2 linked regions of the Homo sapiens genome follow. The protein of the gene in region 1 purifies or fractionates together with the protein of each later gene. This does not show direct contact. Each region holds a gene or a part of one and is shown on either strand. Other genes may lie near its edges.

Evidence for each region. Proteins that work in one complex are often made in the same cells at the same time.
Region 2: the proteins of KCNJ5 (region 1) and NUP35 purify together in Homo sapiens (affinity purification with mass spectrometry; 2 studies listed by BioGRID and IntAct, with this or other methods). This does not show direct contact.

Annotation. Positions count from the first base shown.
Region 1 is NC_000011.10:128,897,506-128,901,559, forward strand, and holds part of KCNJ5 (G protein-activated inward rectifier potassium channel 4), read left to right. Parts: intron 1-2,059; exon of another isoform or gene 2,060-4,054. UniProt on the Homo sapiens protein: Inward rectifier potassium channels are characterized by a greater tendency to allow potassium to flow into the cell rather than out of it.
Region 2 is NC_000002.12:183,155,088-183,159,010, reverse strand, and holds part of NUP35 (nucleoporin NUP35), read right to left. Parts: intron 1,568-3,923; coding exon 1,498-1,567; intron 729-1,497; coding exon 600-728; intron 1-599. UniProt on the Homo sapiens protein: Functions as a component of the nuclear pore complex (NPC).

The sequences.
Region 1 (4,054 bases):
TTCTGTTGAGTTTTGAGAATTTTTAAGTATATATTTTAGATACCAGTCCTTTGTCAGTCAGATATGTAATTTACAAATATTTTCTCCTACTTTGTAATTTTGCCTTTTCATCTTAACAGAGTCTTTTTCAGAGCAAGTGTTTTTAATTTGATGGAAGTTTAATTGATCAGTTTGTCTTCTTATGGATTGTGCTTTTCTTGTCAAGTCTAAGAACTCTTTGCCTGCCCTAGATCTTGAAGAGTGTCTCCCATGTTTTTCTCTAGAAAGTTTTATTGTTTTATATTTAAGTTCATGATCCATTTTGAATTAACTTTGGTATAAAGTCTGAGACTTAGGTCAAGGTTCTTTTTTTTGCCTAAAAATGTGCAATTGCTCCGGCACCATTTGTTGTAAAGGCTGTCTTTCCTCCACTGAATTCCTTTTGCACTTTTGTCAAAAATAAGTTGGGCATATTTGCAAAGGTCTATTTTTGGGTTCTCTGTTCTGTTCCATCAATCTATGTGTCTATCCTTCTGCCAATACCACATAGTCTGGAGTTTCCTCATAACTGCAGTTATGTAATGAGTCTTGAACTTGTGTAGACTGATTCCTTCCACTTTATTCTTTTCCAAAATTGTTTTATCTATTCTAGTTGCTTTCCCTTTTCACATAAGTTTTAGAATAATTTTATCTATATCTATAAAAAATCTTGTGAGATTTTGATAGAAATTGCATTGAATCTGTATATGAATTCAGAGAGAATCAACGTTTTTACTATATTGAGTCTTCCAATCCATGAATACAGTATGTTTCTCCATTTATTTGCTATTCTTCAGTTTCTTTCTTTGGCATTTTGTAATTGTCAGCAGTTCTTTTTGCTCTGCCATGAACTAATTGTGTCGCCTTGGACATTAGTCTTTCAGACCTTCAGTTCTCTTTCTGTAAAATGTGTCTAATAACACCTACCTTGAAATGCCATGGGAAAGTCAAATAAGTTAGCGCATGAGCAGTGCCCCATGGCAAGCGCCAAGATGCAGTTCCCTTCAGCTGGGTCTCTCATCTGTTCTTTGTTTCCTCCTCCTCAGCTTTCGTTCTAATGCCCACATCCACTTACACTTCACTTTGTCTTTCCTTTTTGTCCTTTGCTTTTTTAAATCCTTCTTTCATTCTCAACTCCTTACTCTGATTTTTCTATTTCTTTCTTTCTTTCTTTTTTTTAGACAGAGTCTCACTCTGTCACCCAGGCTGGAGTTCAGTGGCGCAATCTCGGCTCACTGCCAACCTCTGCTGTCTGCGATTCTCATACCTTAGCCTCCCGAATAGCTGGGACTACAGGAACTCACCACCACGCCCAGCTCATTTTTTTTGTATTTTTAGTAGAGATGGAGTTTCACCATGTTCGCTACGCTGTTCTCGAACTCCTGACCCCAGGTAATCCGCCTGCCTTGGCCTCCCACAGTTCTGGGATTACAGGCGTGAGCCGCCGTGCCTGGCCTTTCCTATTTCTTTCACTTTGTTTTTCTCTTATTCTCAATGGATTTTTCTGTTTCATTTCTTACCCCATGATATTTGTCTATCTCCTCTTTCTTGAATCATTTAAGCATTCCATTTTTGTGGAGTTGCTCAGACACTGAGTGTGAGTCAAGGGCCACTCAGCCTGGGTTCAACTCCAGATCAACCACTTACTAGATTTGGGGCAGTTGACTCACCCTCCTGCACCTCAGTTTTCTCATCTATAAAATGGGGAGAACAGTATCTACCTGGTACCTTTTCTGAAATGATTAAATGAGTTTATACATGTAAAGCATTTGGAATAAAATTGGGTATATGGTACAGCCCCAGTAGGTGACGATAATTACTGGGATTTTACCTGTTATGTCCAGTTTCTGTGGCTCTTTCTCACATTTACCATCCCTCACCATCTCATCCTTTTCACTTGTATATGAATATATTCAAACTCACATTATCTTGCTTTCAGGCTGTTGTCTCTGTGCACTTCTACCTCATCTTCCCTAATCATCACTGATAAATTGGCACCAGCCCAGGAAATCTGTCCCTTGGGTTATAGACAGGAAACAAGTGGTTTTTCATTTTGATTTAATTATTAATCCCTTTTATTATTTAATGTGGAATACATACACTGTGGGGTTACAATGAAGAAAATGGATTATCACTGTGCGGCTCACTTTCAAAGAGATGGCAGGCTTAAAAAGGAAAAGTACCAGACAGACAGAAACAAACGTGGGGAAAAAGCAAAATTAATTAATTTGATTTCCGTGCCCTTTTCATGGCCATGACTTTTCATACATCTTCTGTGAGATCCAGGAGGATGCATGTGGATTTTGCAAGTAAGCCAAGCGAGGTATTAAAGGGAAGGGGTGTAAGGAGTGGCGAGTGGCCCACAGTGGCTCACCAGGGAGGGCAGAAAAATATTCATCCTAAGCAAATGGGAGCCTGGCAGGTTGGGAAACTCAGTCACAAGCTCACGGGCCTGCTCCATACGTACAGTCCTCAATAATGGGCTTGGTCTGTGATGCAAAGCTACCTGAAAGGCACTCACCTATCACTAACCCTTTCGAATCTATATTCCATACCTTGAATCGGGCCTAATATCTGCCCTTTAAAAAATTGCTGAATATATTTAGACTCACTTAGATACACTGGGCAGAGGGATATTTTAAATACCATCAAAATGGTCTTTTTGTCTCTGTATTTTCTCCAAAGAATTGAACTCCCCAAGCAAAATGCCAGATCTGCCTGCGCTCCTTTCAGACTAGAATTCTGTCTCCCTTTAAAGATCCTTACATGAAACACCATTTAATCCTTCTCTCTCTGCCTTTTTGTGTTTATGGTGACCTCTCAGTATTTTGGTTTCTTTAATGACAAAGTAACCATGGAATTAGTCCACAGCATTTCTAGGGTACGTGTTTCTCTCCAGATATCAAAAAATAATGCATGAGGTTTTATTACTTCCTTAGGCTTGTGGTGGGGAATCCTCCAAGGATGGAGTTAAAATGAACAGCCAATACTCTCTCGCTCCTCTGGGCTACCCGAGGCTCTGCAGGCCCCAAACTCACCTTCTGTTGCCCCATTCAGCACCAGCCACCCCCCTTTGTTGTGCAGCCAGAAGCCAGGGCCGCCTGGCAGGCCTATTGCTAAATCTCCCAGTGTTTGTATTACATAAAACTTCACAGTCGGTGTTTCTGTGTCTACAATGCCAGAATCCTGGAAATGAGTTAACCCAAATTTGTGTGCCTTCTGGCAAGCCCAACTATCCAACTACAAAAGGGGACTAATGTGATAGGATTCTCCTGAGCCAACACAGGAGTTGAAAGAGCCCAACAGAGGTGCAAACTGCCATTATGATTCCATGATAATAATTCCACATACTAGGAATACCGGGATTATTTCAGACCTTATATCTGCTCTTAACCTATACCAATCCAATCCAGGGGGGCCAAGTACATTATACCAGTATTTGGTAGGATAGAATTTTTCCTGATAAAATGGCAGAGATGTCATGAACATTAGGATTTCCACAAATATTTCTATTTCTTATATAGGAAAGAGACCCAGGGTGGTAACCTGTAGAGTAACATGTAATGTGGAGCATAGGATGTGGCCAGGAGAGTCAGGGTTATGATTCAGAACCAAGATGGCTGGACTCAAATGGGTGTGAAGTAGGAGGGTGGGAAAGCGTGGGTTCTGAAGTCAGGCCGCTGTCAGTTCAAACCCAGGTTCTGCTGCTTGCAAGCCATGTGGTCTCTGGCAAGTTCCCTCCCTGCTCTGAATCTCAGTCTCCTGATCTGAATAATGGACACATTACACTTATTCCACAGTGTTGCTGAGCTGATCAAGTGTGTTAACACGTGTAAGGCACCCAGTCCAGAGTAGTGCACGCAAACACACACACACACACTTCACTTCCAGAGCTGTTCTGCAAAGAAAAACCAAAAGGCAGTACAAGCTGCTGCAGGCAATGAATTGATGACGTGTTTAAAACAAAAGCAAAAAGAGTGCAAAGGCCATGGAGAATGCGGCACAGACAGGAAAGATGCTCCCTAAAGAGCTTGCC
Region 2 (3,923 bases), on another chromosome or scaffold:
TACTAGCACCAAGCACAATGCCTGGAATGTAGTACAAGTTCACATATACTTAAAGAATGTTCACAATGATTTAACAAGCCACAAAGAACAGTTTAAATTGTACTCTGTACTATTTAATGAGTATATATAGAATAATTTTAAAATAGTTTTAAACAGAAATATTTTGAAACGAAAACCTTTGACATTTAAAAGTTAACTATCAGTTAATGTTAATATGAACTAATTCATTCTGAAATAGTACCATTCCATTTAAGTACTTTAAAGAATCTGGTATCGCTTTGCACAAGAAAGAGAATGGATTAGTAGTCAAGAGACCTAAAATCTAGGCCTCACCTTTAACAACTCTGGACAAGTTACTTAAGCCCTCTCAGTTTCTTTATCTGAAAAATGAAGAGGTGAGGACAGATTACCTCTAAATTCTAAACTCTATGATTAAATACCTTCGGCTTACCACAAAGAGTACTATAAACATCATCACATTTTACAAACTAAGAAAAACAGACACAGTGAAACCAAGTGACACAACGACCAATTTCAATCCTTGGTCTTGTGCTCTTCATATAGATTAAGCTACTTTGCCTACATCACCAATAACTTACTTTGTCAATACATGGTTTTACACCAATCATGATGGATTCTCCAAAAATCCTCCCATCTTTGCTTAAGGCTTTCCGAGCCTGCAGTTTAGATTGATAACGAATATGCATCCAATTTCCTGTATTAGACATCTGCAAAGAATAAAACTGTCTCTTAAAATAGAAAATATATAAAATCTACATCTAATGAATTCTACTAGAAAATAGGAACATGGTAAGATAAATTTACTTCCATTCCGTATTTGATGCCTTGTAAAAAGCTGTAAAGTTCAACAAAAATCGTATTTAGAACAGCTTCAACAATCTCTCAATTCTCTACAATCAACATGTACATATTCTCTGAAAGTAAGATACTTCTCAAAATATGTTTATTGTAAAGAGATCAAAGCAACACTTGCCATAAAGTTATTTAAAACTACTCAATTTGATTTTGTATAGGAGTTAAGTCAATCTCTAGCAACAAAAAAGGATTTGTTACTTATAACTTGTAGCACAAGGTAAGATAATTTTTTAAATTTTAGAGCTATAAAGCTCTAAAAACTCTAAAAGCTCAGGAACTGCCTCCTACTTCTTTTATCCCCAATAAAAGCAGCTCAAATTGGAAAACAGTAATATAATACTTGGCATAATCTATCTTTTTTAAGACTGTAAACTGTTTAAGAAAGGAGGTGAGAGGAGGTGGATTTTCAAACTCTCAATTCTCCATATCTTCTCACTATATCTCTTTTTATCAAAAATTAGGCAACTTCCAGCCTTCCAGACTTCAAAGGATGTATTATATCAAAACTCAAAAAAAAATTTAAGTTTAAAAAAAACCCACAAAATTCAGAAGCAGTTTCTCTCAATTCACAACTTATCCCTCTTTAGTCAAAACTCTGAACTGAAAAAAATTAAGCCTTACCACATGTTTTAAGATATTCCCATACTGTGCAAATTGTAGTAATATGTAGGAAGCAGATGCTTGAGGAAACCTGAAAAAAAGAGTTGTCCAAAGAAAACGTCAGCTTCTACTATCAATGTGAATGCAAATTACTACAAGATAATGTTTCAAGATAAATGGCCCCCAACTGTCTAGAACGTTAACAGGAGAGTGCTGATCATCCTGTTTTCCCCGATATGGGCTAATTCTGTCAGTGACTAGTCACTCAAAAGCAAATACCTTAAAGTTAGTCTTATCCTGCCATTCTTCTCCATCCTCAGATTCTACCTCTGAAATCTCTAAAAATGCTACTCTCGTTGCCATTATCCAGGTCTTAGAAAAAAAACTATAAAGTTGCAGTTCTATATATAATTTATTTCAATATGTGTATGTTAATATGTAATATATTTAGGTATACTACGGTTATGAAAAGATAAAGAATTTTAAATTATAAACGAATCATTATACATTGAGCATCACTTAAAAATTCTGAAATTTAGTATCATAACAAAGAGAAAATTCAGCATCAAAATATTTATGGTATAGAATCACTTAAAAGGACAGTTACCAAAATTTGATTAGCCATATCTCTGCATGAGAAAATTCTAAGTAATTTTTACTTTCTTCTTTATAAAGTTCTGTATGGTTTGGATATTTTACAATGACATATTATTCTTTTATAGTCTTAACAATAAAGCTGTTTTCAATTTGAAAACAATAACCACTACCAATCGCATAGAAATGGCTATCTAACTTCAGTTATCTGAAGACTGAATTAGAACCCTAAAGAAAAAAAAAAATTCGAGTCTCAAAAATAAATCAGAAACCAAACACATTAAAAATCTATGTGAGGCTGGGCACGATGGCTCACACCTGTAATACCAACCAGCACTTTGGGAGGCCGAGGTGGGTGGATCACTTGAGGTCAGGAGTTCGAGACCAGCCTGGCCAACCTGGTGAAACCCCGCCTCTACTAAAAATACAAAAAATCAGCTGGGCATGGTGGCGGGCACCTGTAATCCCAGCTACTCAGGCGGCTGAGGCAGAAGTATCGCTTGAACCTGGGAAGGAAAGGTTGCAATGCGCCAAGATCGTGCCACTGCACTCCAGCCGGGTGACAGAGTAAGACCTCATCTCAAAATAAATTAATTAATTAAATAAAATCTATATGAGTAAAATATTCACTGCAATCAGAACTGAAAATTCATTTGTATAAAATCTGGACATGAAATTTCTAACCACAAAGAAAAACAACAAATAGGTTGGGTGCCTACAGGGCAGAGATCAAACAAAAATGAAAAGAAGAAAGAATGGCTGCAAGTGAGGGAAGTACTTAAGAAATAAAACATAATTCTAAAACTCTTGGACCACTTTGAGTAGAAACTTACATTCTAGTACTCTATAGCAGAATCACCCAAAACAATGAATATTTCATAACCCTAAGTCAGTAGGAAAAAGTTAAACTACCAAAGAAAGAACATATATAATGCATCCTTTAGAGGTACTTCCCCATAAATGATCAAAATAAAATACTTTATCCCTTAAAGGAGAATGCTTCAGTTCTTGAAATTAAAGTCATAGAGGGTTATTAAAACACGAAAGTAAAAAAATAAACAGCTGGGAGAGTTAATGTCTGAAATACGAAAAAATACTAGGAGTGCTTCAAGTAATTTATCTAATTACTGGAAATCTTAAAAGTTAAACCACTACTACTGAGCCTGAAAAACAGATTTAAGAGTGGGTACCTATTTTCAAAAACATGCAGCCAAGCTGGCTCATGCCTGTTATCCCAACTACTCATGAGGCTGAGGTAGAAGGATTGCTTGAGGCCAGGAATTGGAGGCTGCAGTGAGCTATGATCATGCCACTGCACTCCAGCCTAGATAACAGAGAGATTGTCTCAAAAAAAAAAAAAAGCCATTTTATGAGAGACTATAAAAATGTAAATGTAAAAGAAGAAGAAGAAAAAAAACACACCAGCCCAATTGCTATGGATATAGGACTGAGTATGGACTTTCTAGAGAACAACGGAATGCAATGACCCGCTTTTTACCCAAATAGAAATCAATAACACATAAAATCTCTCTGGAAACATACACAAAAAACAGATGGCAATCACTGCCTTAAAGAGGAGGAAAACTAGCTTGGGACAAAAGCAAAAGGGAAAACTTCATTGTACATTCTTACATACCTTTTGAATTTTTAATTTTAAATAAATTGAATACATAAAATCCACTAAACATTTACTATGCACCTTTCTTCCTTCAAGGAGCTCATGTGTTATTTTTATGTTTTTTAATCCCAAAAAATATATAATAGATACATTCCAGTATCAGCATGTGATACAGTTCAGCTGTGTCTCCAACCAAATCTCAACTTGAATGGTATCTCCCAGAATTCCCATGTGT